Homo sapiens: one gene and its partners. The protein of the gene in region 2 interacts with the protein of the main gene of each other region in a pairwise test. Each region holds a gene or a part of one and is shown on either strand. Other genes may lie near its edges.

What was found.
Region 1: the proteins of GMCL1 (region 2) and XAGE3 interact in binary tests that used the Homo sapiens proteins (3 or more experiments, as listed by UniProt).
Region 3: the proteins of GMCL1 (region 2) and CFAP410 interact in binary tests that used the Homo sapiens proteins (3 or more experiments, as listed by UniProt).
Region 4: the proteins of GMCL1 (region 2) and BEGAIN interact in binary tests that used the Homo sapiens proteins (3 or more experiments, as listed by UniProt).

The regions. Positions count from the first base shown.
Region 1 is NC_000023.11:52,865,069-52,873,089, reverse strand, and holds the start of XAGE3 (X antigen family member 3), read left to right. Parts: upstream 1-5,006; 5' UTR 5,007-5,084; exon of another isoform or gene 5,085-5,277; intron 5,278-5,788; exon of another isoform or gene 5,789-5,840; intron 5,841-5,934; exon of another isoform or gene 5,935-5,948; 5' UTR 5,949-5,956; coding exon 5,957-6,037; intron 6,038-6,551; coding exon 6,552-6,657; intron 6,658-8,021.
Region 2 is NC_000002.12:69,832,640-69,839,660, forward strand, and holds part of GMCL1 (germ cell-less protein-like 1), read left to right. Parts: intron 1-4,907; coding exon 4,908-5,031; intron 5,032-6,817; coding exon 6,818-6,914; intron 6,915-7,021. UniProt on the Homo sapiens protein: Possible function in spermatogenesis. Enhances the degradation of MDM2 and increases the amount of p53 probably by modulating the nucleocytoplasmic transport.
Region 3 is NC_000021.9:44,329,370-44,336,390, reverse strand, and holds part of CFAP410 (nuclear encoded mitochondrial protein C21orf2), read left to right. Parts: intron 1-586; coding exon 587-633; exon of another isoform or gene 634-3,128; coding exon 3,129-3,358; intron 3,359-4,376; coding exon 4,377-4,548; intron 4,549-5,471; coding exon 5,472-5,568; coding exon of another isoform or gene 5,569-5,928; intron 5,929-6,064; coding exon 6,065-6,193; 3' UTR 6,194-7,021. UniProt on the Homo sapiens protein: Plays a role in cilia formation and/or maintenance. Plays a role in the regulation of cell morphology and cytoskeletal organization. Involved in DNA damage repair.
Region 4 is NC_000014.9:100,542,416-100,549,436, forward strand, and holds part of BEGAIN (brain-enriched guanylate kinase-associated protein), read right to left. Parts: intron 5,713-7,021; exon of another isoform or gene 5,082-5,712; intron 4,248-5,081; coding exon 4,086-4,247; intron 3,853-4,085; exon of another isoform or gene 3,493-3,852; intron 2,652-3,492; coding exon 2,585-2,651; intron 1,551-2,584; coding exon 1,443-1,550; intron 529-1,442; exon of another isoform or gene 1-528. UniProt on the Homo sapiens protein: May sustain the structure of the postsynaptic density (PSD).

The DNA of each region.
Region 1 (8,021 bases), on a different chromosome or scaffold from region 2:
CAGGGATCCAGTGGGCCAACTCTCTTGCCATTGGAGGGATTACTGTGAAATGCTGTGAGTACATATATTTTTCACAACAGACAAGAGCTCAGCTGCTGCTTCCTATTATGGGCAAATCCACAGTCTCCCAGGTGTTACAGCTTCGTCATGCCTGCTTCTTCATTCTTTATTCAAAGAAGTCTTTCATCATATTTTAGTGAGTCAGGGTCTTGCTGGAGAATCACACTGTTGCTGCCACTGTGTCAGGGATCCTCAAGACCACCCTCACTTCCAGTAATTGCCTATGAGGACCCAATGTATAGTTGTGCTCGTGGCTAAGATTTCTTACAGCAAAAGAATACTGAGCTAAATCAGTAATGGGGAAAGTCCACTGGGCAAAGTCCGGCGGGAACCAGCAAAAGCTTCTAAGAGTCCCTTCCCAATGGAGTCACACAATTTGTCTCTCCAGCAATGAATCGTGACAACATGTGTAAAATGTTGTCTACCAGGGAAGCTCATTAGAAACTCAGTGCCCCAGGTTTTTACTGGGGACTGGTCACATAGGCACTCTCTGCCTAACAGGCAACAACATTTCAGATTCCCAGAAGGGAAGCTGGTGTTCAGCATAGAACATATTGCTTGAACAGTTTCGGAGGAGTAAACCACTCTTATCAGATGGAGAATGGTGGGAAACCTCCTGAAATCAAGTTCAGAGATGCCAGGCAAGGGCCAGTCTTGCAAGCTGGCCTTTCTAAGGATAGTAGTTTCAGACCTGCTATATTACCTCTTTTTTGCACAGAACTCAACTACAAAGCTTTAAAATGCATAATCAAATCAGACAGAACCAATGGAAAAAAGTCAGCAACATATAGATGAACTGAATGGCACCATGGACTAATTGGATCTAAGTGACATGTAAAGAAAGCTCCTCATAACGACAGCAGACCGTGTATTCCCTCATGGGTGGTTTTGAGGGGTTCATGGCTCCAGTGGATGAAGTACCTGCCGACATGGTGGAAACAGCAAGAGAACAAGGGTGGAGCGTGAAGAGGTGACTCAACTGCTGCCATCTCATGATAAAACTTTAACCTGTAAGGAGTTGCTTCTTATGGATGAATAAAGAGAGTAGTTTCTTGCAATGAAATCTACTCCCGGTGAAGATGCTGTGAACACTGTGGAAATGACAGCAAAGGATGAGTTGATTAGGTAATGGCAGGATTTGAGAGATCTGACTCCAATTTATAAAGGAGTTCTACTGTAGGTAAAATGCTATCAAGCAGCATTGCCTGTTATGGAGAAATCTTTCGTGAAAGGAAGAGTACATCAATGGAGCAAATTTCACTGTTGTCTTACTTTAAGAAATTGCCACAGCCCTCCATGTAGTATTAGCTTGTTAAAAAGTAAATAAAAAAAGAAAATAAATTGCCACAGCCACCCAACTTTCAGCAACCAGCACCCTGATCAGTCAGCAGCCATGTACATCCAGGCAAGACTCTCTACCAGCCCAAAAGTTACAACGCACTGAAGGCTCAGATGATCTTTAGCATCTTTTAGCAATACAGTATTTTCCAATTAAGTTATGTACATTTTTTGACATAATACTATTGCACAGTTAACAGATTGTAGTGTAGTATAAACATCACTTTTATTTTATTTTATTATCATTTTTAAAATTTTTTATTTCAATAGGTTTTTGGGGGAACAGGTGGTATTTGGTTACATGAGTAAGTTCTTTAGTGGTGATCTGTGAGATTTTGATGCACCCATCACCTGAGCAGTATATACTGAAACCAATTTGTAGTCTTTCATCCCTCACCCCCCTCCCACCCTTTCCCCTGAGTCCTCAAAGTCCATTGTATCATTCTTATGCCTTTGCATCCACATAGCTTAGTTCCCACTTATGAGTGAGAACATACTATAAACATCACTCTTATATGCACTAGGAAATAAAAAAATGTGTGAGACTTGCTTTATTGTGGTGTTCTGGAACAGTACATGCAATATCTATGATTTATGCCTGCATAAATTTCTGAAGGGGACATGATTTAATATGTAAAAGTCCACCATCTGGCACCTCAAATTCATGTTCTCTCACATCTAAAATACATTCATCTCATCTCAACATCCTCAAAACTCTTAATTCTTTTCAGCATCAACTCTAAATCCCAAATCTCATTCAAATGTCATCAAAATCAGGAAAGGGTGAGAGTCAGAGTATGTTGTATTCTGGGGCAAAATTATTTTCATCTGTGAACTTGTGAAACCAGACAAGATGTTATCTGCTTCCAAAACAGCATGAAGGTGCAGGCATAGTAGAAACATTCCTATTCCAAAATGGAGAAGATGGAAGGAGAAAAGGAGTCATGGGGTCCAAGCAAGGTTTCAGACTTTAAGAGATTTTAAGGCTTCAGAATGGTCCTCTTTGGCTTGATGATGTGTCCTCTGGGCCTAGTAGGGTGGCAGCTCTGCCCTCTTGGCCCTGAATGTTAGCCCTGCTCCCTCACCCCTGGGCAGAAGCCCTGTTTTCTGAAATTGAGGAGGTGGCTCTGCCATCTGGAGCTCAGGAAGAGGCGTCTGGATTCCTGTTCCCCAGGTCATTGCTGTCTGGGCCTATAGAGGCAGTGGCAGCTTGCCAGCCTCTGCATCTGTAGCTCTCCCCTCAAAGTCACTCTTCCTTTATTTTGTCCCATTTCTGTCCCTTTCATTTCAGGCTGGCTGTGCTTCTTTTGGTATAAAATCCTCAAAAACATGTTGGCCTCTGATGCAATTCATGGCATCCATGCCAACAGACCCTGAATCCTCCCTAGATCTTTCCTGGATAAATGCATCTCCTTCCCTGCATTCTGCTGAGATGGTTGACTGGATCCATGACTCACATAGCTCATATCCTTAGCAATCAGTTGTCCTGCTACACCCTTGGCCCTATTTCCAGAGCTTGCTATCTGGTTAGGCTGAGAATCTTCTAAATAATCAAGGGCTGATTCCTTTTTGCTCAGCAATTCTGTTGTTGTTTTATTTCTCCTCCCTTACATTTTGCAACCAACAGCGAGGAGAAACCAGGCCACAACTTCAATACTTTGCTTAGAAATGTTCTTAGCTACATATACAATTTCATCACTTACAAGTTCTACTCTGCATCTAAGAGAATGCATTCTAGCCAAATTCTCTGCTACTTTCTTACAGGGATTGTGTGTCCACATGTTTCCAACACCGTGTTCCCCATTCCTGTCTGAGAGCTCACCTTCAACATTCATATTTCTAGGAATATTCTGTTCATGATGATTGATGTATTCTCTAAGATGACAGAAACTTTCTCTATAGTTATATAAACACCCACACAATGCTAGAAACTCTCCTCCATTTGAATGACCTCCCATAATGATTCATTTAGAGGAGAGAAGCGATCTGCTGGGAACTCTTAGAGCTTCTAAAACCCAGTCTACCTGTGCTTGCCCTGGCATTCTCTGCCGCCCTTCTGCATACAATGCTCCTAACTAAAGCCAGCCCCTCACCTCAGCTCAGGATCCCATGCCTCCCACCTTTTCAGGAGCTTTGCTCCTGCAATGATCATTCCTCTCTCCTGAACCACCAACTCTTCCCTCTAAATGGGATCATTCTCCAAGCTAAGGGGGGAACTCCCCTTCTTCCCCCATGTCCTCCTATAGCTACTAACACATTTATCTGCTGCCTTTCAAAGCGAAACTGCATGAACTTATACAACCCACTTCATTGGAGTCATTTTTTCAAAATTATATGGAAAGGAAAATGAACGAGAAAAACCAAAACGATTCTGAACTATAACTTTGGGGAAATCACACTACCTAATTTCAAGAGTCATGTTAATTCTATAGTAATCCAGGGAATGTGGTACTGGGGAAAAATCAACAGATCAGAATGGAGTCCAGCAATAGGTTCACAGACATGATAAACTCATTTTCAAAAAAGGTGCAAAGGCAATGGAGAAATATTATCTTCTTGAGAAATTGTGTTGTTTTCTCCCTTGCTTCTTGGCCACGACATTCATTGTTCTTTACTCCCCTGGGTCCGTTCCCCGTGTTTCTCCTTTGCAGTTCAACTGCTCTTCTGTTTAACTGTCTGTCTGCCCCACCACAGTGTGGTAGCCTCCATGGGACATACCACGTGTGGTTCCTTGGTCTTCACATTTCCAGCATCCCAGATATTTCCTGCAACATGGCAGACACCCATGCATATATAAATGAGAAAGAAGTATGTATGAATATATATAATAAAATAATTTATTTCTGTCACAAAAGGTCTGAGACACATCCTCCACTCATGGTGACATGGGACTGTCCCCAGTGTTTCTGGATGCATGAGAATGGTAGGGCAAGAGAGAGAACGAAGCCTCTTAGTCCCTTTCCTTCTACTACAAACACCTTAGGGATGCGAGCCTGGGGAGAGAGGGAAAACCCCGGGTGGCCTTGCATGTGCCTGACTCAGTGTGCACGTCCCTTGCTGCCCAAGTCCCTTGTCCATGTGCCTTGCTGTCCGCCTTCTGTCCCTGCAGAGCTGTGCAAGGAGACATCATGACTTCCTTCTGTGCTGCTGACTAGGAGTCAGCCAGTAAGTCCGAAGATCAGTCTTCCCAGAGTTGAAGTGGGAGAGACTGTGAGGAGGAGCCCGCGGCGCGGTCTATGGCCTCCGACGGGGAGGTCCTTGAGGTTCCTGTCCTTCTCCTAACAGGTGGTGACACAGCCATGGCCTTGCTGTCGTGGGGGTCCCAGACAGGGGAGGAAGGAGGGCCATAGAGGGGAGGAGGACCTAGTGAACATGGAGTGAGTTTTGAAGGGGGAAACTATTTGTGGTATTTGAGTCCCGGAGGCATATGAAACCGCCCACAGAAGACACATTCCGAAGTCTTCAGTGGGAACCTGGGAGAGGGTAGAGAACTGCGCGGCGCGGCATGGGGTGGGGCTAGGAGAGGCGCCACAGCCCACTAGGCAGGCACCGACCTCACTGCGCATGTCCACTGGGTGTCTTCCCCTCGGCCCCTTTTCCCACGTGGTGAATGCCCTGGAGTTGTGAGGGTGTGAGGGTCGCGTTCCTGCTGTCTGGACTTTTTCTGTCCCACTGAGACGCAGCTGGTAGGTCCGCAGGCCAGTCCTCCCAAGGGTTGAAGTGTGAGTGCGTGTGAGGAGGAGCCAGTGGCTGTCCGGAGCGTGGGAAAGCATAGCCCGTGGCCTCAGAGGCCGAAGGGTCTCAAGGTGATCGTCCTTCTCCTCGTGAGGTGGCACTGCCATGGGCCTTGTTGTGGTGAAGTCAGAATGAGGGAAGAAGGTGGGCCGCGTAGTTGAGAGGGGTCAGGTGAAAATGGGGCGAGTGCTGGGGGTGCTGGGGCAGGTATCCGAGTCCCTGGAACCCTCGACCGAGGACGGATTCCAGACTCCTCCGTGTCGACCCGGGAAGGAGCAGGGTGGGCATTAAGGAAGGGAACTGGGAACGCTGCGGGTTGGTGACTGTGGCCCTGAGGTCTGTAAAGCGCCTGGCAGAGGTGTACAGTGAGGAGGGCCCAGAGCTGTGTGGCAACTTCTCAACTCCACTGTGGAGGTTTGAATGGGCGGGGCTCTGCATTCCAACAAAACTTGATTTTAGGGGGGAAATGGGCCCAGCAAATGGGTGTGTGACAAAAGCCGTGGTCACTGCAGTTTTAATTCTCTGGCTGTATTTTCCCAAATGTCTCCACGGAGGAGAGTTCAGTTGTGAAACCAAACCTCATCGGAAATATCCTGTCTTTTGCCAGGAGCCTTAAGAAATTGCTCAGCTAGCTTGACCAACTTAATGGCTTCCCAAGCATTCAGAAGGCACACATACTTACACTTGCCCTGAGACTTAGTTCGAAAGTATTTACAAACTTTTAAAAAATGACAAGTTAATATTTGGTCATGGAAGTGGTCAAATATAGCTGTCTTTTCAAGTGCATTTACCAATTCACAGTATTCTGTTTGCAGTGTGAAATATGATTTGGCGAGGAAGATCAACATATAGGCCTAGGCCGAGGAGAAGTGTACCACCTCCTGAGCTGATTGGGCCTATGCTGGTGAGTGCCTTAACCTTTGATGTTTTCTATTAGCAGAAAGTTATTTTTGTAACTTGTTGTTGTTGCAAAACTATGTTTTGTAATTGTTGTTGAACCAGTATAGATATACCAATAAAGGTCTCCCATGCTGAGAAAAATAATCATGGCATCTCATGAAGGAAAGACTAGTCCAAGAGGATTAAGTTCTTCTGTTGTCTGGATGGATGATCTTGTGTTCCCCAGATTTTGCCCATGATTTCCTTCTCATGCTTATTTGCAAAAGATTACACACATTCATCCCAGCTTAGATTAAAACAGCTTCCAAAGCCCTTGAGGGCAACTGTCTTAGAGTAACCTCTCTGTGGGAAGAGTAACTTTATGAAAAATAAGTATGTGGAATCGTGTTGGAGAAATGTCTTTAGACTTATGATCAGAAATATCTATGTATTCTGTATATTTGTATTATTGAAATGTATCGATAACAAAACTTTTTATCTGCACACACACACACACACACACACACCCCTGGTTCCAGGAGCCCGGTGATGAGGAGCCTCAGCAAGAGGAACCACCAACTGAAAGTCGGGATCCTGCACCTGGTCAGGAGAGAGAAGAAGATCAGGGTGCAGCTGAGACTCAAGGTGCTGGGAAGGGAAAGAAAGAATGTCTATGGGGAGGGGAGGAGGCCTATGTGTGCATCATGCCTTATGCCATGACCAGTAACAGGAGGAAAGAAAACATTAGGAAAGGATCTCAAACATTTGCTGAGAGTTGGCTGGAAAAGTGAAGAGTATAGTTTGCAGCTTCATGGATATAATGAATCTTCTCTTACCTTTGAAATATATTTCGTATGCTTGAAAATACAGTCCTTGCTAAATCAGATGAAACTGTTTAATTTGATGTACAAAAATATACATTATTTCACTAGTTTACTTTGATCTTCTTAGAATGTTGTTGTCTGATCTTCTCAGCCAAGGTGTCCACAGTATTGTATGCACCCTTTAATAGCATGTAGAATGCCAAGTCACCCTACCTGAATACACTGAATAAAGCCCATTTGCATAAGGATGTTAGCCCCATTTTATAAATAAGAAAACTGAGGCTCTGAAATGGAGGCTTACCAAGAACAGTTGAGTCATGGAGAAGGAATTCATATTTCATTCCAAGGTTTGTGTTCTCCCTACCATTCACATTAGAAAACGTGAATGATTTTGCTTGAAATGTTAATACTCAAATGTGTCTGTACTGTAAGTACTTCAGTATTGGCTCAGGACAAAACAAAGTTCAGTGAAGCAGGATAGCAACGCCAGAAAAGAGCTCAATGAATGACAGCCACTCTTTCCTTTGCTTTGTATTTTTGAAAGTATGTTTGGTAAAATCTGGATAATTCAGGACATTGGCATACAGGTAGCTATATTAGTATGATTTTAAGGGGCTTTTAAAGAGTTGTTTATATACTTTTATAATTAGAAAACTCGAAGTACGATAAGATTATCATGAAACAGAAATTATTTCCTCAACAGAGAGCATTTTGAAGTTAAACATTGACAGAATTTGGGTCATGGGTTACTTTAGCAATTCACTGTTAAGGGGTTTCCAGAATATGACTGTCAACAATGCCCATTAATTTTTTTTTCACTCAAGTTTCTGTACTCTTGTGGAAGACAGCGATTTTGCTGTTATATTCGGTATTTTTTTGTGAATGGGATTCATTTATGGAAAGTTACATATAGGGCCTTTGGACCTAAGTTTGTTTAATTTTAACCAAAAAATTTTCAAGTTACCTCAACAGGTGATGAGTGTCAGGACTGTAAGATTTGTCATAGGCTCACCAATATATTCATCTAATCTTTCAGAAAATTACATTTAAGTTATTATTAAAATGCTATCCATTGGGCAGTCTTTAGGTTTCCTAGATAGCTGACACTCACTGTTTATAGTACACAATGGTAAAGTATAGGAAATGTAAGTGTGGTCTGATTTTTCCTCAGATTGTCATTTAAGA
Region 2 (7,021 bases):
TATTTAAAACAGATATCAAGTAAACAGCATATAGTTGAGTCTTGCTTCTTTTGTCCAACAGGACAATCTAACCTTTCAATTAGTAGTTAGACCACTTATATTTAACGTAATTATTGAAATATATGTCACAGTGCATTTGAAGGAGAGAAATCACACAGCAATTTGAATACAGGAAATTTAATATAAACATTATTAACAAGGCACAGAGAATTAACTACTGAGGACAAAACGCTAAGGTAAAGAGATCCCTAGAAAATACATGTAGTAGTCAGTACTTCTAAGGCTGAGGCAGAATAGCCACAGAAGGAACAAATTTGGAATAGGTGCCCCCACCCCTTTCCCAAGCTAAGATTCAGATGATGTTGAAGGAGGTGTGGCTGTAGCCCACTGGATGGTGGAAAAGTTTGCTCAAGTGTGGTAAGCTGAGGCTGGCAAGTAGGACACTGCCTACTAGGATGCCAACAAAATTATTTGGAGGCCTTTTGGCCCAGAAGGCTAAAGATATTTACTATCTAGACCTTTACAGAAAAAGTGTACCAACTCCTAGACTACATGAGTGGACTGGAATGGAAAGTTTTTAAGGCAAACCTTTATCGGAAAATGCATATCAGAATTTAGTGTCTGTATATTACTGGAAGATGCTTGGATTATTCAGCCCAATACGGATGCAGGGTGTAAGAAAATACTAAGACGGGCCAGGCGTGGTGGCTCACGCCTGTAATCCCAGCACTTTGGGAAGCCAAGGCAAGCAGATCACTTTAGGCCAGGAGTTTGAGACCAGCCTGACCAACACAGTGAAACCCCGCCTCTACCAAAAAATACAAAAATTAGCCAGGCTTGGTGGTGCACGCCTGTATTCCTAGCTACTTGGGAGGCTGAGGCAGGAGAATTACCTGAACTCAGGAGGCGGAGGTTGTAGTGAGCCAAGATTGCGCCACTGCGCTCCAGCCTGAGCAACAGAGTAAGACCCTGTCTCAAAAACTAAACAAATAAAAATTTAAAAGAGAAAGTATTAAGATGTTGAATTTTGTGTGTTGGCCCTAGTATATACTTCCTGAGGTTGTCTGGTGTGCTCTCCCACATCAACAGACCACTTTATGAGAAGTTTTAGCTTTTAGGCCCAACTTCCACCTCATACCTTTGTCAACTGCATGTTCTACTTTTACATTTACGAGACTGTTAAAACCCACACTGTTCTACAACCAGATCTTGAGTGTTTTGTCCGTAGCTTGTCTCTAAAAAATTGAAACGACATTACATAGTTATAACTAAGTAAATATTGTTTCAGAAGAGTTAAGTAGTATGCTAGGATTATAAATCATACTTGATGGGTCCAGTGTCACAACTGCTTGTCTGTTCAAAGGGAGAAATTTTTCTAACCTCACAGTCATATGGAATCTTTTCTTGTATTCCATCAAGTGCTTAAAGTCAGGCCCTGCTTTTGTTTTTATCTTATTTGGACAGTGCCTTTTTTTGTATTGCTTTTTTATTGTCCTAGAGTTTATAATGGCCTTTCCCCCACTCTTGTCAAAATAACAATATTCCTTCATCATGGCTTCGGGTTTTTCTGAAAAAACACAGAAAAGTCTTTTGAAACACACTTTCATGGAATCCTTCTCTAAAACCTAGACCTCTTCCATCCTCCTGTTCCAATCTGGATTTGTCTACTCTTATGCTGGGACTTACTTTCACCCCATCTCTAGGATTGAATCCACTATTTTGTGTAGCCTGCATTTCTTTCTCGCTTATTTTAGGAACTATTTAATACATCCTCAAGTATTTTCCAAGGAAGGGTGCAAAAGGGGGTAATTTGTGCGTATCTAAATATAAATTTAGTCTCTTTTACTTTATTCATCCTCTGACTGGGTATGGAAATCTAAAGTAACTTTCTTCATATCTTTGATGACGCTGCTTCATTGTCTTCAGGCCTACAGTCTTGATGAAAAATTTGATTCTGGTGTAATTCTCTTTTCAGGTGACCATTTTTGCTCTCTGGAACTTGTGGAACTTTTTCTTTGGTATTTTGGGATTTAATTAGAATGTGCTTAAGTGTGGGTCTTTTAATGGCCTTGGTACTTGTTGGATCCTTATAATCTGGAGACTCATATACTACCTTAGTTTTGGGAAATTTTTTTCCATTAATTTCTTCCATAATTTCCTTTCGCTTCTTATCTTTATTTTTTCTTTCTGGGATGCCTCTTAACTGGATTTTGGATTTCTTGGATTATGCCTGTCTCTTCTTTTTTCCTTTCTTTGTCTTTTTGCTTTATGTTCTGGGAAATTTCCTTTAACTTTTTCATCACTATCATTAGGTTGTTTGGCCCTAACTATGAGGTATTTCTTTTGGACCAGGGGTGAAAATTACTAAAATATGAAATGTGCTGTGATCCATGAAAGCTTGGGAACCTCTGCTCTACAAAGCATGCCCCACCTATAACCAACTTCGTAGTCTTCTTACTCAAAGAAGAGGTACCTTGGAAATAGATCTATTTACTCAATTAAAACACCATACATCAGTTATTCATTCTTAAATATAAGTGGACAAGCAAGGAAGGATCACCCAACATGAGGAAGAAAAACAAACAAACTATTCTTTGGTTTATTTGTTTTTTTAAATTTCAGTAATCATGTCTTTAGTCTCTAAAAGCTCTTTCTTGTTCTGAGTGATCCTTTATCATAGCAGTCTATGGGGTAAATATAATAATCTCAGATCTCTAGGTATACTGGTGAGAGGGTGTTTTTTTCCTCTCTTTTCCCTGAATTATATGTTTCCAGGGGTGGAGGGAGTCTCTCTGTCTCTCTGATATGCTCTTATTCTTCCTCATGGTGGGTGATCCTTCCTTGCTTGTCCACTTATATTTAAGAAGGAGTAACTGGTGTATGGTGTTTTAATTGAGGAAATAGATCTATTTCCAATGTACCTCTTCTTTGAGTAAGAAGACTACGAAGTTGGTTATAGGTGGGGCATGCTTTGTAGAGCAGAGGTTCCCAAGCTTTCATGGATCACAGCACATTTCATATTTTAGTAATTTTCACCCCTGGTCCAAAAGAAATACCTCATAGTTAGGGCCAAACAACCTAATGATAGCAGATTGCATGGTATCTGAAAGATGTTACTGTGTTTCCTTCGAATTTAAAATACTCCACATGCCTCTCTGAGTTGGCTGTGGTGCTCTAAGTTCAGATGGTATCCTGAACTGGTGAATTTCACACACGGTTTGGGAACCATGACTTAGGGTGAATGGATTGGGAGTGAACAGGCCACAGATTCTTTAAATTTCAGAATGAGGATTGCTTTGTCTGGGCACCAGCAGCTACACTACAGCCTTAGATCTTCCATTAGCTTTGTGCTATTTCTAGAAAAACCTTGGAATCTTTTTGCCTCAGTATCTGTACTCTCCTTATCTATACTCTGTGTTCATAGAGTGGAGAAGGCACTAGTTTCCCCATTTTCTGCCCCTCTTCTTACTTCTGCCTTTGTTTCCCTGAGACCTCATCCTTCTTTTCTCCCAAGGGTTCTGATGGGCAGATAAGCTTAGCCTCCATCCTAGTCCTCCATAATGTATTTTTTGGCTGTGGCTGTCACTGTTCTTTTTCATTTGAATTTGTTTTCTAACTTTCAGATCTGTATAAATCTCTCATCAAGTGATGAGCCTACCCTCACCTTTTCCTGGTGTGGACTTATTCCTTTTTTGTACTCTTAATCTTTAATGTAATTTGGGGAGGGATGGGAAGCCAACATGTGTACATTCTGCCGTCAGGAACTGGAAACTACATTGTCTCTTGATTTCGCATCATAACGAGTGAAGTGGATACTATTAATGTCCTCTTTTTACAGCTGTGATAACTGAGCAGCTGGGACTCAAACCCAAGTCTGTTACCACTAAGACATGTGCTGTTTTTATTGTCGGCTAGGAAGAGGTGTTAAGTACACAGGTGTTAAATTCGCCAATTCAGGATGTCATCTGAAACAATTACTTCATTTTTAAAAAGAGATTGAAGGTTTTATGTGCTAGGAAAGCTTTCAGAATTGGTCAGGAATTTAAGATATTGATCAGCCTCTGCCTAAGGCCTTTTCTTAGTTACTGGATCATTTTGAGCAATGATTTTCAAACTTTATTTTTTTAGTCAAGTCTTCCTTTAAATTAAATCTGTGCAGAAATCCAGTATGTTTACAGATAGAATAGGTGATGCTGCTCTGGTTGAAGTTAGATGGGATGCTCACAGTTCACTCCTTAGCTCTCCTTGGTGGCCCCTAAGACTTCTCCTTTGAGCAGTTTTAAAAACCTTTCATCTAAAATAAATAAATAAATAATTTTAAAAAACAAATAGGAAAAGAAAAGAAAACCTTTGATCTAAGGTTGCAAACCGTTTGTCCAGTGGCTGGAAAACATTTTAAGTAGTTTAAGAATAGGTTGGTACCAAAATAAGATTAAATGTAAATTATTTTAAAATTACTTGGGTAGGTGAAATGTTTACTCTTGTTCTCCATTTCCTACTTGCAGATTATTGCGCTATTTGAGCTCCTTCATAGTGCTGGTTTCTAAATAAGGAAATAAGCAAAAAATCAACATGCTAACTTCTTAATCTATTGAATGGGTAATTAAATTAGTCCAAAATTGCTAAAACATGTGTAGTGAAAAGTCTGCCTCCCATGCTGCCCCCCTTTCTCCACTATCTCTCCCGTGCATAGAGGACCCCAGAGATAACCACTATTATTAGTTTCTTATGTACTCTTCTAGACACAAGAAAATTTGAATATATACTATCTCCCTATCCTTTTACACAATAGGTAAGTTGACTCTATTTAATAGAAATTGAATAAAAGGAGTATTTAGAAATATATGCAAAATCAGTAAAACATTCAGTTTTATATAAATATGTGACTTTTTCATTTCTTTTAACAGGAAAAAATTAAAGAGTACATCTAAATATATTTATCAAACATTATTTTTGAATGGTGAAAACAGTGACATTAAGATTTGTGCTCTAGGAGAAGAATGGAGCTTACACAAAATATATTTATGTCAAGTAAGTATTTTTTCTATTTGAGTAACAGGGTAGTCACTGAAACTCTTAAGTCATGTTCTTCCTCATTGCACTTCACAGTAATCTTTTGCATGAACACCATAGTGGTTAAATCCTCTCATTTGATCAGTCTGTAAGAAAAATGGCAAACATTGTTAGTGAAAACTAAGTTTGGTCTAGAAAGAGATTTTGATATTTCAGTATCAGACTAGCCTAATACTACGTATTTGTCATTACTTCATAAAATGCTTTTTTCGGTGCCTTCTGTTGATAAAAGGGGAAAAGTTGGGGAAAAAATATTTAACATTAAAGTTAAGATTGTAGTGTTTATTTTGCTTATGGTTATTTAAATTGGATAAACTCATCTGAAATGTTGCTTTGTAGTTCACATTGAGTGTGAATAGAAAGTTCTCTCCTGAAAAATGCAGGTAAAGACAACACCAAAAAGTATATAGACTAAGTAGATTTCTGTACTGAAAATATTACTACCTGCCACCCCACTTTAAAAATTCAGAACTTTCATAGCTGACGTGGTGTTGGGCACCTGTAATCCCAGCTACTCAGGAGGCTGAGGCAGGAGAATTGCTTGAACCTGGGAGATGGAGGTTGCAGTGAGCTGAGATCGTACCACTGCATTCCAGCCTGGGCAACAGAGCGAGACTCTGTCTCAAAAAAAAAAAAAAAAAAAAAAAAAAAATCGGAGCTTTCAAAATAGAATACAATGTTGCTCTAATGGCCCAAATATTTTATTCATTTTCTTTCATCAAATCTATAAGCTAGGTATTGTTTGAGGCACTAGAAATAAAACAACAGTTTTTATCCTTTGGAACTTACATTTTTCCTCTTTACCATTTGAGAATAATTACTGGTAAGACAGCATAGTATAAAATTTTTCAGTAAAAGTATTTGAAAATGAATTGCCTTCTCTAACATTTTAATCATGTTTTAAAATGTGTTTTTGAAACAAATTTATTTTGGCTTGAAGTATGTTGCCCAGATACTATATCAGAATATTGCTTTTAACTTCAGGGTATGATTCATGTTGTTTCTTTTTAATATCTGAAAGCAGTTTTGTGAACTTGAGGGTAAGAATACCTCTGTTAAAACTTTACCCCTCGTGGAAGATGTATTATAATTCAAGCCACATGCTAAAATATAAGCCCCCTGAGGACAGAAACAATATCGATTTTGTTTATTGCTATATTCACAGTGCCTTCTACATACTAAGTACTCAGTAACATTTTTAAATAAATTAGTTAATATTTGATCCATTTCAAAGTAATTCTAATTATGAGGAGTGCTATCTGGCAGATACCTAAAGACTTCATTCTGTACCTTTCCAAGAATTCAGGTCCATTCTGGACATTTCTCATTAAACTAAATTTTGGATTTTCCCTGGTTTCTTTGGCGATCATCCTGTTTTTGCTGACTTGGGACTGGTTTGGTCCTTTATAGCCATTCAGGTGTACAGTAAAGATTCAACAGTTTGAGTAAAAAGCTAACCAGGTTCAAATAATATACATGAATTCAATTTAGATAGTAATATAAGAATTTTAGTTTTTTGTCAAAAATAGTACTAAACCAAAAGTATATTTTGATACACCTAATAGTGTCCTTATCTTAATTTCTTTTCTCCTGTGGACATATTTGGCAGTTCTTTTTCTGTTGAAGTAATAGAATGGATGAGTTTAGTTAATGGATAGAATAGTTGCTTAGAATTAGAAATGGGCAAATAATTTGGAAGACACAGAAAGTACTTGATAATCGTTGACTTTTTTTTTTGTTTAAGTCTGGCTACTTTTCTAGTATGTTCAGTGGTTCTTGGAAAGAATCCAGCATGAATATTATTGAACTGGAGATTCCTGACCAGAACATTGATGTAGAAGGTAACTACCACAATAATTACTATTATGCAACAATCGTAAAAACATAATCTTATTCTTCTGGTAGAAGATAAATAATTCCTTCCAGCCTTGTAGTCTAGAAAACTCCT
Region 3 (7,021 bases), on a different chromosome or scaffold from region 2:
CCCTGCGTAGGGGACATTGGGGTCCCCTTACCTGATGTCCTTTGAGGGCATCTAAAGTAATGAATGCTCTGTCTCCACTGCTGGCAGCATCTGACAGCAACGATGCTGTCGTAAAATTTAATAAAGACAGAGTGCGTGCAAGGAGGAGCCTCACATTTCTCCTTCAGTCTGCGGGGCGTCTGGGCTGCAAGGTGGTGTCAGAGGAGAACCTGGCATACTCGTGGGCATTCATCCTGGGCACACTGGCTGAGCAGGGCCGCTCCCCTCAGGCCCTGGGCATTCACCCTGGGCACACTGGCTGAGCAGGGCCGCTCCCCTCAGGCCCTGGGCATTCACCCTGGGCACACTGGCTGAGCAGGGCCGCTCCCCTCAGGCCCTGGGCATTCACCCTGGGCACACTGGCTGAGCAGGGCCGCTCCCCTCAGGCCCTGGGCATTCACCCTGGGCACACTGGCTGAGTAAGGCCGTGCCCCTCAGGCCCCGGAAGTGGGTTGGCCGTGGCTTCGACAGTTCTCTGTGGCTGATGGCAGTGCGGCCGCGATGCCCTGCTGTGCCATGCTTGCTAGTCATGTTCTTTTCCTCCTAGATCTCCATTTGCCAGGAGATGCCCAGCCTGGAGGTGATCACGCTCAGGTACCTCGCTCCTGCTGTCATGCTCAGCCTGGGGCCTGGAAGCCGGGGCAGAGCCTCACGTCCCTCCAGTGGGACCCAGCACTGTGACATAACCTGGAAACCTCCAACACAGACTGAGGGCGGCTTCCAGAAGGGGAGGGGCCGGGACAGCGAGAGCTGGGCCTACCCTGTGGCCCCCATGTTCAGCCCTCCTTCCTCAGAGCCTCACCTGGGCCTCCTGATGGCTCCTGTCCCCTGCCTGCCCTGCTGTACGCCTGCCCACCCTTGGCCTGTGTGCTCCGATAAGCCATTGCTGTGTTCACTGGGCCAGTCGGTGGTGGAGCCCTCCTAAGGATTCACGGTGGCCCGCCCTGGCCGCCCCCACGGTGGCCACATCTGCCCTGGGACCCCCAGAGTCCTGGCCTCTTCTGCCCCCCAGTGCCACCACTGCCTACCAGTTTCTCTGCACCCCATGACCTGTGCCCGTCTTCTGGGGTCACTGCCCTCCCAGCAGACTAAGGGAAGCTTGAATGAACAAATGTTACTGGACTTTCAGGCAGTTGGGGTGTATTTGGGGGCTCTGGGGAAGAGAAGAGCTCCCTTTATCCCTGAATTCCCTCCTGCCTACTGTGGGACCCACGGAGGGAGCAGACGCTCATGGCTCACCACTGCCCACCAGACGCTGGATGGGCGCCTTCTGTGGGTTTCCGCATTTAAAAGCTCACAAGGGTTTAAACCCTGTGGGGAAGGCCCACCCCTCTGGCAGCTCAGAAGTCTCTAGGGCTTGCCCTCTGAGAGTGGGTATTGCAGGCCCCTGGTCCCTGACTGTGACCTACCTTCTTGATCTCACAGGCAGCCACGGGGTAGGCCAGCCCCTGCCCATCCTCCGTAATGCCCTCTGAGGTTGGCATTGCCATGTTGATGCCCGTGCCCAGCCTGCTGCCCGCCATGGGCTGAGGCCAGTCCATCTGGTGTTCAGGCATCCCCAGCGCGGGCACCAGCCTGTCCTGCCCGAGCCTTGCTGAATGAATGAAATGGGCTTGGAGGCATGCTCATGGGTCAAATCTCAGCCCTCCCATCTATTGGCTGGCTAACCTTGGGCGAGGCATGGCCCTCTCTGTGCCTCAGTTTCCTTTCTGTAACATGGAGGTATTACAAGTGCCCACCCCACAGGGAGATGAGGAGGAGATGGAGCCCGAGTCCAGAGGTTGAGCAGGGGTGCGCGTGCCCGCCCAGAGGTTGAGCGGGGGGGGGGGGGGGGTGCGCGTGCCCGCCCAGAGGTTGAGGGGGGGTGCGCGTGCCTGCCGCGGGGCTCGTTTCACTAGTCAGGCGACACAGTGAGGCTGGGATTTCAGGCCTGCCTCCGAAAGGCTTACCTGACAGGGAAACGTGGAGCTTGTGGTTCCCACGGTGGCAGGAAGCTTGGGGCGGGGCTGTGGATCCAGCCCTATCCCTGCCGCTCACTGAGTCACCCAGGGGCCACAGGGCCTCCGAGCATCAGGCCGCTCGTGTGTGGGGCCATTTCTGTCACATCTCGGGAGGGACAGGACCCCAGGGGTGTTGACCGAGCTCAGGTGCGTGGTGCCTGCACGCCTGACTGCACTGGAGCGGAGCAGGAAGCCTCGAGGCCGCGGACGCGGTCGGTACATCACGCTGCTGCCTGTGCCTGAGGCAGACCCCATCCTGGAAAGAGTCCCACAGCCGGAGTTTTGCTCTTGGTAAAATGGGGCGGCCTCATAGCTAGGAGCTGCATGAGACCTGGGAAACCCCGAGTGAAGGGATGGCATGGGGAGGGGGGCTCAGGACGGCAGGCTGCCCATGGGGGCCTGGTGACCGCCCTTCTGAGGCGCCTGCCGGACGCGAGTGCAGCCCTCCAGGCAGGGGGCCCTGGCTCCGCGCCTTTGAGGGCCTGCGGGAGCGGCTCCGCGTGTTCGCTTGTGGAGGGGACGGACCCCACGCTGCAGGGTAAAGCCTGCAGGTCCCCGCTCCAGGCCTGCTGTTTCTCTTCTCTGACGCGTCCACGTTCTGTAGAATGGAAATGAGGCCCATCCCCAGTGTTGCCGCCCTCAAGTGGGGGTTTGGAAGGTCCGTGCTCACTCCCATGTCACGTGGAGCTGGCTCCTAGTTTTTGCCATGAGTTTTTCTGGCCGCTCCCTGCTTTGGGGCAACATGATATGTCCCCTGAGAGGCCTTAATTTTCCTCACCTGTGAAGGAGGGCCACATCCCCCACCTCCCGCACTCTAGCGCCCTGAGGAGCTGATGTGGAGCGTCGGGCCAAGGGGCTGTTGCTGGTGGGGTCCACCCCAGTCCGCCTTTGAGTTCAGGGCCTGGCCTTCCTACAGCTCTCTCCTCGGCCCAGGTCCTGCTGCACGTGACTTGTGACATCCGATTTAGGCTTCTCAGGAGAGGGCAGGGACACAGGTCCCATGAGTGCCTTTTACTGGGGGTGGGGATTGAGAGGTGGCCCTGGGGGCCCTGGCCACGTCCCTCGCTGACTGTGCTGGTCTCCGTGCAGTGTCAACAGCATCTCCACCCTGGAGCCTGTGAGCCGGTGCCAGCGCCTGAGTGAGCTGTACCTGCGGAGGAACCGCATCCCCAGCCTGGCTGAGCTCTTCTACCTGAAGGGGCTGCCGCGTCTGCGGGTGCTGTGGCTGGCCGAGAACCCGTGCTGCGGCACCAGCCCCCACCGCTACCGCATGACCGTGCTGCGCACCCTGCCGCGCCTACAGAAGCTGGACAACCAGGGTAGGTGGCCGCAGCGGAGTCACCGGCCCTCCCAAAACAATCCCTGGAAGGGGATGTCCCCAGCCCTCTTTTCTCTTCTCCTTTTCTGCAAATACCTGGTCTGGCGGGACATAGATGTGTCCTGTGAAGTCTCCTCCAGAGGCTGTTCCCCTGGCTTCTGTGTCTCCTCTTGATCCCGCCACCCGAATGCAGCAGCGCAGCGTAGGGTCCCTCCTGGGACTGACAGTTTGGGTATCCCCCAACGACCGCAGGACCTGGTAGCAAAGCAAAAGGGTTCCTTCTTTTGCTTCTGTGAGTAGCAGCCCTGCTCTGACCATCGCCATGCGCCATGGCGAGCGGGGGCGTCAGTATCTGGCAAGCAGCATCGCACTGGTCCACAGGGACTGGGCAGGCTCCACGGGCCACTGTGAACCTAGGGTGGCGGTGCCATCGCGCCCCTGCCGTGGGGAGGGGCCGTCCCAGCACCGCAGTGCCTGCTGCTGCGCTCCACCTATTGGAGGCACTCGTGCCTCCTCTAGCCAGCGCCAGCACCGACACAGTTTTCCAGGCTGTGGTTTCATGCTGTTTGTTCATCCTTGGCATTCTCAGCACACTAGTGTCTCATCCTTGTCAGGTATACAGACACCACTATTTTCTCCCAGACAATTTTATTGATATTAATAATATAAACTTCAGGGAAATTGATATATGAGAGAAATGGAATAAATTCAATATGGTCTGTTCCTTTTTCTATTGTGTCTTAGTTGAGGTTTTGAGGAGTATTTGCTTCTGGCCAAGGCTGGTGTTGAGATTCCTGAGCAGCCCTCCACCATCTGTTGTGTGTCAGCCTGTGCCAGGCTGGGGATGGGACAGTGAGGAACCGGCTGCTACTCTGGGAGTTGTCCCTGGAGGTGGATACACGTGCATGCATTTCACAAGCAGACTGTGCCTGAAGCCACAGTGAGGACGGGAGCTGCAGTGCATGTGGCCTGCACGTGGGTGAGGCCACTCATGCTGTCTTCTGTCTTTCATCCCAAAGCTGTGACGGAGGAGGAGCTGTCCCGTGCACTGAGTGAGGGAGAGGAGATCACTGCGGCCCCAGAGAGAGAGGGCACAGGCCACGGCGGCCCCAAGCTATGCTGCACACTGAGCTCCCTCAGCTCCGCTGCTGAGACTGGCCGGGACCCGCTGGACAGCGAGGAGGAGGCAACGTGAGGCTGGAGGGCAGCGGGGACTCCGCAGCCCATCCCTGTCCCCCAGGGTCCTCCCACGGGGAGTGAATGGGGCTTCCCGTGAGCTGCGTCTCTGGGAAGTGAGGGACAGGGATTATCCGGGGGGAGTGTCTGTTCTCATCCATATTCTCTGGGAGTGACTCAGTGCCCAGGTAGTGATTTCAGTGGCAGGTCCATGTTTTGCCCAACAGCGGATGTGCCAGGGAGCAGGAGAGGGGGTGAGCCAGGCCCCGTGCCCTGGCACAGAGAAGGCTCACAGCACCAGAGCTCGTGAGGTGCAGGGAGCCCCTGGTGGGGGGGGTGGCCTAGGGCCACAGTGACTGGAATGGTTTGTGGGCACGGCCATCAGTGCCCGTATGGCCTTGGGCCTGGGGGCCGTGGAGGGGCCACAGGGCTGACTCTGCAGTGAGACGCCGGCGCCTCCCAGGGCAGTTGGCAGCGGGTCACGAACGCATTTGACAGAAGCTGGGCACTTCTCTCCTGCTTGGCAGATCACACCCGCTGCTGGTGCCTGTGGTGGGGGCATCGGGATGTGATCTCTGTTAGGCATCTGCCATCCGGCACAGGGCCTGACCCCATGGTCAGGAGCTCTCCCCCGGCATTTGTGTGTTCGGGTGCCCCCCACCCTGCCCCTGAAGCCCTGGGTGGAAGGTGTTACAGCTGGGGAGCCCCAGGGTGCCGGGAGGGCGCCCCACAGGTGAAGTAAGTGCCGGGCTCTCCAGGAGCTGCCATCTGTAGCCCCTGACCTCCCAGGAGTTGCCTCCCTTCTCTTGCCCCCGTGTGCCAGGTGGGATTTGTATGAGCCCCTCCTTTGCTTGGATGCGACCCGCAGACAGGGTTTGCAGAGGCCCCCCCGGTGCCACGAGCCCCCTGACCCTCACACGCCTTTGTCTCCCTCTCAGCAGCGGCGCCCAGGATGAACGTGGCCTGAAGCCGCCTTCCCGGGGCCAGTTTCCTTCCCTCTCAGCCAGGGATGCCTCGAGCAGCCACAGGGGCAGGGTGAGTGGCGGGCCGCTAGGGGCCGCGGCTGCCTCTGCCCACTGCACCCACTGCACAGAAACCGTGGGGAGGGAGCATGGAGCCTCACAGGGCCCCGTGGGGAGGGAGCATGGAGCCTCACAGGGCCTTGAAGAGCTGTGCCCCAGGGGGAGCTGCGTGTGCGGGTCTGTGAATGCGCACACACGTGTAACACGTGCCCCGCACGGAGCCGTCCTGGCCCCTCAGCCTCTCCTGCTGTCCTGGTCTGTGGAATGTGGGCCCGGGCCCTGCTGGGCTGAGGGCAACAGGAGTCACGTGGAAGAGGTGCCACACACGCGTCCACAGGCGGGGCTCCTCTGCTCAGATTCTCCGAGTGTGCCGGTCAGTCACTTGGACGGCCCACACCCCCGGGACCAGTCGCTCCGTGGTGGGGCACCGCTGGCCAGGCCCCAGCCCTTGTGGAGGGAAGCAGCCTCGCCGTGCCGGGTGGGCTTAGTCCGCACCCCTCTGCCCTCAGAACGTCCTGACTGCCATCCTGCTGCTGCTGCGGGAGCTGGATGCAGAGGGGCTGGAGGCCGTGCAGCAGACTGTGGGCAGCCGGCTGCAGGCCCTGCGTGGGGAAGAGGTGCAGGAGCACGCCGAGTGACCGCAGGACCTGAACGCCGCTCCAGCCTCCACGGGGACCCCAGCGTCTTCCCCAGCCCCCGGGAGCTGGAGGGTGGCTGCCATGGCCGCAGCCCCGGCCCCACACAAAAGCCTCCCCGGTTTGCCACATCGGCCGAGGGCAGGAGTGGGTGTTAGGTACTGGCTAACCGGGGCGGTGGAGATGCCTGTCTACACCAGTCCTGTCCCCAGGACTCCCCTTCTGTGGTCTGGAGGTTCTAGGCTGGCCTGGGCTCTTAAAGGGAGGATTTTGCAGGCTGTCCTCCCTAATAAAAGATTTTCCCAAGGTTGATCTGGAGGTGACGTTTCCCAAGGCATGGTTGTGACAGTCTTCCTGAAAGCAAGGGCCGTTTCTCCACAGAATGAGGAGGTCTTCACGGATGGCTTTGCCGATTCCAGCCCTTGGTCCTTGGATAGATTTCTGTTGGGCAAGGGAGACTTCGAGAATGCTGGCACCCATAGCGACATCTGCCCTGAGCTGCTCAGCAGGCAGGCAGCAGCCTCCCGCACCCATGGGAGAGAGTTTTGTTTTCTTGGCCGGGCTGGGCAGGTGCGCCTTCCTTTCTCTCTCCTGTGAAGAACTGCAGGAGGGCCCTCAGCTGTGAGGTTGTGGATGAACAGGCCTGTTCGCCCTGGGGTCCGGGCCTGGCACAGGAAGCAGCTAGACTAGGGGAGTCCTTGGAGCATCTGAGAGGGGTTTTCTTTCCTCTGGGAAGAGTCGCAAGTCTTATGAGGATGCCACAATCTGGGCAGTGACCCGTGGCCCTGGGGACCTTCCTAGTGCCCCCCAAAACCAAGGAAGCATTCACGT
Region 4 (7,021 bases), on a different chromosome or scaffold from region 2:
TCTCATCTGCATGCTGCCTGGGCAGTCTCCGCCGGCATGCCGGCCTTCACGCTCAACTCCAGACCCGGGCCTCCTGCTGCCCTGGTGACATCTCCGCTCCAAGGGGTCCTGTGCATCTCCCACCCAGCTCCTGTCCCTCCCCAGCTGTCCCCAGCCAGGAAATGGCAGGCAACTCCTTTTGTTTGGGCTCTGAATCCTGTAGCTGGGTTGGACTCAGCTCTTCTTCTAACAACCCACATCCTAAATCTTGGTTAGTCCTGTTGATTCTATTTTCAAAACACAACCAGAATCCCAGCCCTCTGCCCAGTTCCACCGTCATCTGAGCCACCATCATCTTTTGGACTATGGTCCTGGCCTCCTCCTGATCTTCCTGCTCCTGTCCTCGTCCCTACAGCCTGTTTCCAGCATGGCAGCCACGTGAGCCCTGGGAAGCTGCACGTGCAATCACGTTGCTCCTCTGTTTTCAGAACCCTCCATGGCTCCCCACTGCACTCAGAATAAAGCCCAGGTTTCTGGGAGGAGCCTCTACAACATTGCCTCCTATGGTCTTTCTGACCTCAGACCCTGGCTCCCCCTCCCGCTGGGCGCTCCTTGGCCCCTTTGGGATCCTCCGAGTTAACCAGGTACAGCTGCACACCACGGTTGCTTCTGCCTGGAAGCAATGCTTCTCCCACGGATGTCTGCATGGCTGGCTCCTTCACTCCCTCAGGTCCTGGCACAGCAGCCCCTTCCAGAAGCACCCTCTTGAAATCTGCAGGCCCTGCAGCTGGCGACTCCCTGGTACCGTTCTTCGCTTTCTGTTTCTCTATAGCATTTCACACTTCTAACATACCCCAGAGTTTGCCCCACTCAGATGTGAACTCCACGTGGCCAGAGGTGTTTTTTTTTTTGTTTTTTTTTTTGCCTGTGTTGTTCACACCATCATCTTGGAGCCTAGTAGGGTCTGGCAAGGTAGAAGCTAATTCGTGAATGCAGAGGCAGCTGTCCAGGGTCTGTGGAGGGCAACTGGGCCCATCTCACAGGGTCCCTGAAATTAGGCCCCATGGGCAGCCACACGGCTGTGATGCAACACTGGGACTGGCCAAGGGCAGGAGTCCTGAGTGGCCATGACCCCACCTTGGGATCAGGAAGCCTTGCCTTGAATGGGATAATATGGCCCCGCATCCCCTAGCTCAAGTCCTTACAGCAGAGGGTCTGTTTAAGGACACCCTTGGCGTCCTCAATGAGACAGCACCATCTTTCCCCAACTGCAGCAGGTCCTTCTCAAAGCCCTGACCAGCCTGTCCATCCACCTGTACCCTGCACCAGCCCCTTGAGGCTGGGGCCAAAGCAGCTGAGCTCAGGACCCTTCAGAGTCAGAATGTGACTCCCAGTGCATCCTGGGAAGCCCTCGCCTAGGCCCACCGGCAGTCTTCCATGGGCCAAGTGTGTGCGGCACTCACGTTGTCCTCTGACAGCTTGTCGATGGTCACCTTGGCTTCTAGCAGATGGCTGTTGAGGGCAACAATCTCGTGGCTCAGCGCACGCTTCTCCTCCTCATAGTGCTGGCCCTGGGGGTGGGACAGTGGGAGGAGGAGGCCCGTGGTTGGCTCCTGGTGAGCCAACCCAGTCGCTCGATTGCACCCCCTGGTTTGTCCCTTGTAGCCATGAGTGACAAGACACTTAGAGGGCCAAGGGTGTGGGGTTTATGAGCACAGACAGACCCTGGTTCAATTCCTGGGTCCAACACTGCCAAGCCACACAGCCTTGGGGACGTCACTGCCTCTGAGCCTCAGTTTCTCATGTGCAACACAGAGGTGACAGCGTCCTGCCTCAGGAGCTGGGAGTGGGGACGGAGGACAGATGACTTGTGCCTGGCATAGAGCCCAGCCCACCTCACTGGACAGATTGGGAAACTGAGGCTCAGGAAAGGGCCGGTGTCCAGGCACCCAGGCAGAGCCAGGCCCAGCCCCCAGGCCTGCCACCCCCCGTCTCTGATAGCACCACAAAGGTGGGCAGGTTGTTGCTTTCAAAACCAAAATGAGCTGGTCACCAAAGTAGAAAGAAAGGAAACCTCTTCATCCTAGTGAGGGAGTGGCACCAGAAACCCACACCCTGCCCCTCTTCGACATGTCCCAGCAGTGTGTTCACAGAGAAAATGGCGACCCCACTGAGGTCACCTGCAGGTGGTGTGAGGGTCCCCACAGAGGGGTCCCCATGAGAGGCGGAGCTGGGGCTCAAACCTGCCTCTGGCTCACCCAGGGCCTGAATTCGGGCCTCCCTATCCTCCTGGGCCCAGGTCCTTGGACTGGCAGGCTGAGCTGGGGGGCCCGTTCCCAGTGTATGTCCTCCGTCCACAGCCCCTCTTACACACCCCCAGGCTGGAGTGCTCGCACCCGCCACTCAGGCAGCACAGGGCAGCCCTGGACCCAAGTACTTCCTTAGCCTGAGAGCACACACCCTGCTCCACATGTTCCATGGAGAAAGGGGTGGGACCAGCAAGACCTGTGTCCCAGCTCCTGAGTGGCCCAGGGGTGTCAGCTGGGTGGCTCCCCCCGGGAAGGAGGTGTGGGGTGGGGGAGTGGGCGCTGCGTGGCGGCCTCACCATGCGGTACAGCTTGTCCTCCAGCTCCTGGTTGATCCTCTGCAGTGCCATGTAGTTGCTCTGAATCCTGGTGCAGGAGGCAAGGGGGTCACTGCCATGCAAGGCCTGTCCCTCCCACGACCCTTATGGCCGCACAGCCTGCTGAGCAGGGTGGGGCTGAATTTGGACCTCCTGAGCTCACCCCACCAGCTTCACCCTGGTGGAATGTGTGCCCCTCTGCACACAGCAGAGAACATCCCATTAAAGCAAACTTTTGTAGAAGCCTTTCCTAGGCCAGGGCCCAGGACTGTATTTCCCCCTCCACCCCGGGACCCCCTGAAGATGGGAAGGGAAGGCTTGTTATTCACAAGAGACTCTGTCCCATCCACACGCGGAGCCAGTTTACTCACATTTGACCCACAATTCTTACAAACCTGTTATGGGGTTGACAGTTCAAATGCAAATGAGCAGGGAAGAAACTTAACACTAACTATGTGATGGGCCCCAGGGTGAGGCTGGAGACATCACAGTGAACAAGACTCGGTTCTGCCGGGTAGGAGGAGTGGAGCTGAGTGTCAGGTGGGAATCAGGTGCTTGGAGATTCCATTGCTGGTGGGAGGGGGCTTGGGGATGGTGTCCAGCCTCAGACAACCTATGTGTCGTGTTATGGCCCCTGTCTTGCCAATAGGGAAACTGAGGTGAAACTTTAATTACTTAAAGCAGTAACTGGCAGGGCCCAGATTTTAACTGAGGTCTGACTGCACTGCCCAAGCTTGGTTTCCACATGAATGGAGGGTGACATTCAAAACACTCAGGAGCTGGGGCTGTTCGGAGAGGGACAAACCCTCTCCCTATGGCAAGTCCTCCCTAGGGGCAACACCAGCCGATTCTCTACAAATACCTAAAACAAATCAAGCCAACAGCAAAGGTTGCATGCTTCTTGCATTTTCTGTTTAAGAAGATGAGAAAGTGCATATTACATTTCAGAAAAACATCCATTTTAAATGTGCACAAGAAAACTGCTTTTAGAAAAGTTTGGTGTTTGAGGGAGTCCAGCACAACTGGATCGACACTTCATTAGCCCGTACGCGCTCAAGGGAAGGGTCCCTAAACTGGTTCATCTCCGGGCTAGACACAGCTTTTCCCATCAGGACCCAGGGAACCATGGCTGGGCCCCGGGTGGACCAGTCTGGGTCTGGAGATCTGCTGGGTTCAAATCCTGGCTCAGCTGCTCCATAGTGTGACTTTGGAGGAAGAGCTTCCCCTACCAGAACCTCTGGACTCCCCATCTGAGTGGAGTCAACAGCCAGGGTGAGAGGGGAGCACCGCGTGCGGCTTTCCGGGCCTCGGGCCCTGCCCCACCCCGGCCCTCGCCCCGCCCCGGCCCTCGCCCCGCCCCGGCCCTCGCCCCGCCCCGGCCCTCGCCCCGCCCCGGCCCTCGCCCCGCCCCGGCCCTCGCCCCGCCCCGGCCCTCGCCCCGCCCCGGCCCTCGCCCCGCCCCGGCCCTCGCCCCGCCCCTCACCTGCGCAGCTTCTCCGTGACCTTCTCCAGTTCCTCCTGCGCGCGCCGCAGCTCGATCTCCAGGTAGTGGCGCGTGGAGTCGAACTCGGTCTCGAGCTTCTCGAGCTTGTGTGTGGTGTAGGACAGCCGCTTGCGCAGCTCGCCCTTCTGCTCCTGCAGCGCGCTGCAACGACATGGCGGCGGCGGGCCGGGCCGCGGCGCTGAGCGGGGGAAACTAAGGCCCGCAGGCCAGCCGGGGCGTGCCGCACTAACACGCGAGTACCGGCGCGCGCGCGCGCGCGCACACACACACACACACACACACACACACACACTCACACACACCCAGCCTCCCGGGCGTCACTGAAGACCATGGCGCCCCAGAGTCAGGGACTCTGACCCTGAGCCAGTCTGGCCTGGGCGGTTCCTCAGACTCCACCAGTGTCCCTCACACAGGTAAATCCCAGGTGGTGGCTGGAGGAGTCTTTGACCCCAGAACCTGGCCAGTGTGTTGGGGGCGGTTTAAAGGACCCAGGTACAAAGAGCACCCATCAGCACCCAGGCTATCACAGAGCTGGCCCTGGGTGGCACAGGTGACTGGGGCCCTCACTCCTGCTCCTCCACAGTGCTAGGTTGGGATGGCTGAGGCCCAGAGTCAGCAGTGCCATGCCCAAGACCAGACCTGCTTTCCCCAAAATGGCTGTGTGGCCCTGGGACCCTGGGTCACTTCTCTGGGCCAGAGAGATGTTTGGTGGCAATGTCCCATGCCCGGGCAGTGTCTGCCACCATGGCCAATGAGGCTGCATGCAGCACGGGAAACCTGGCAAGGTCCTGGCCTGCTCAAGTTCCCCTTCCTCCAGGAAGCCTTCCAGAAACCCAGACAATTCTTGAGGCTCTATTTTCTTCCCCCAGAATGGGGTCTCCTGGAGGGTAGGACCCCAGGATGCAGAGCCCCACATGCTCAGGAAACAGAGACCCACTATGACCCACTCTTCCGAGCCACCTGCCAACAATTCACCTGAACTAAAGCTGTGCAAAGGCAGGAGGGTAGTGTGGGGGCCTCCAACAGGGATGGCTCGGAGCTCCCCAAGGCAGGGGCTGCACTTCCGGTTGTCTGGGTCAGAGTGGGGTCAGCAGCCAGCAGTTCTTTCCTTGCAATGGGTGCACAGCCCAGGGGCTATCTGGGACCAACATCTTTTGGATTGTGTTGCTGTGAGATGGGGACGGGACAGGCAGAAGTCCCGGGTGTCATGAAGGAAACTTGAGGTGTGGGAGAGGGCCTGGAACCCTGACTCTGCCCAGATGTGCTGTGGGACCTTGGGCAAAAGCCCGCGTTCTTGTGATATTCCCGACCCAAACCCAAGCGAGGGGAGTAGAGGGCAGGCAGGAGGCTCCCAGTCCCCCTGGGGCCACCACTGTCCCCCAGCCCCGAGCAGAGGCATCTTCTGTCTGGGCCCCGTGAGTAAACCGCATGTGGCACTGCGGGCACACACCCAGCAAGCCTCCAGGAAGCACTCTTGGATTCCTGCCCAGGGCTATATTTTTAAAAACAAATAAAAATAAAGCGTCGCTTACGTTTTTGAGAACCTCAGAGAAGGGCAGGGCGGGTCTTCCCAAGAGTCAGTCACCACAAGAGGAAGTAGAGTAACAAGCAAAGAGGGAAGCCCTGAGGCAAAGTGCCACAGCTGCCCACGTGGGTCTGCCTCCGGGAGCGCTCTCTGGGACAGTGCTCAGGCCTCCTTCCACCTCCTCCAGGCAGCCTTCCGTGGCTGCCCCACTTCTAGCACTCTATAGCTACAGGTCCCAGGCTGCTTCCCACACAGACCTGTCCTCCCCAGGGAGGTGGTGAACTTCCTGGGGACTCCTATGCCATCCTGGGCTCCTAGGGCAGGCACAATGGGCTGCACAGCAGCCCCTGAAGTCGACTGTTCCCTGCAGGGGCTCCTGGTGTACCCACAGCCCTCGGGAAGAGGTGAGGGCGTCATCCATCCACCCACGTGGCCACCTCAGCCCCGAGTCCTCACCCCTTCTCCAGCCACACCCCAGGCCTCACTGAGCAGCCTTAGGTCCTTGCTATTCTGAGACCTGCACCCCTAGCTCACTGTGCCCCCTCACCCAGCCCTGCCCCTTCTGGGCACCCTGAGGTCCCTACCCTCACCTCTCAGAGCAAGCAACCTGTCTGAGACCTCACAGCCAGGAGTAAGACAAACCCTGCCCCTGCCCCGGGAGCCTGCGGTCCAGAGGGGAGGCAGACAATGAGCTAGGCAGGGATTCTCCACGGGGCAGGTGTGGGAGGGGAGGACGAAGGGGCTATGGGGTGGGCTCGGGGCAGACATCTCACAAGTCAGGCAGCTTCACAGAGCCTCAGTTTACCCCTGGCCTTTGGATGGCCTTCCAGATACAGCAGTCAACTCCCTGTTCCACCAGCCCTTAAATACTGCTCCCCCTCCCCAAGTCCTTCACACCCAACCACCTGCTACACCCAACCAATCTTTGGGCTAGCAGTGCCCCCAGCCCCTGACTCTCACACCCCTCTCTGCCTCAGTGTCCGCTTGCTGCAGGCATCGGGCCATGGACACGCACCCCGTCCCCAGGCATAGCTGATGCCCCGCACTTGGCCGCCCCAGGGTTCCTGCCACGTCTTTCCCCACCTCTGCTGGTCCGGCGATCACACCACAGGCCCCTCCCGACCTCGCCCGGGCTGTTCCCTGGGGCCCCGGTTTGCACCTGCACCCCTGCCCTGCATGCTCAGACCAAATCCCCTCCAAGCCAGCTGCACAGGGACCCCTCCCAGGTTTCCATCTGACTCCAGCGGGGTGTCTGTCAGGCTCCATACCCTCACCACGTCCAGCCACCCACCTATGGCCCTCAGGCATCTCCACACCCAACCCGTCCAATGCAGCCACATCCACCACACCTTCACTGCCCTCCACGTTCCCCACCCGGGGGGTGGGCATG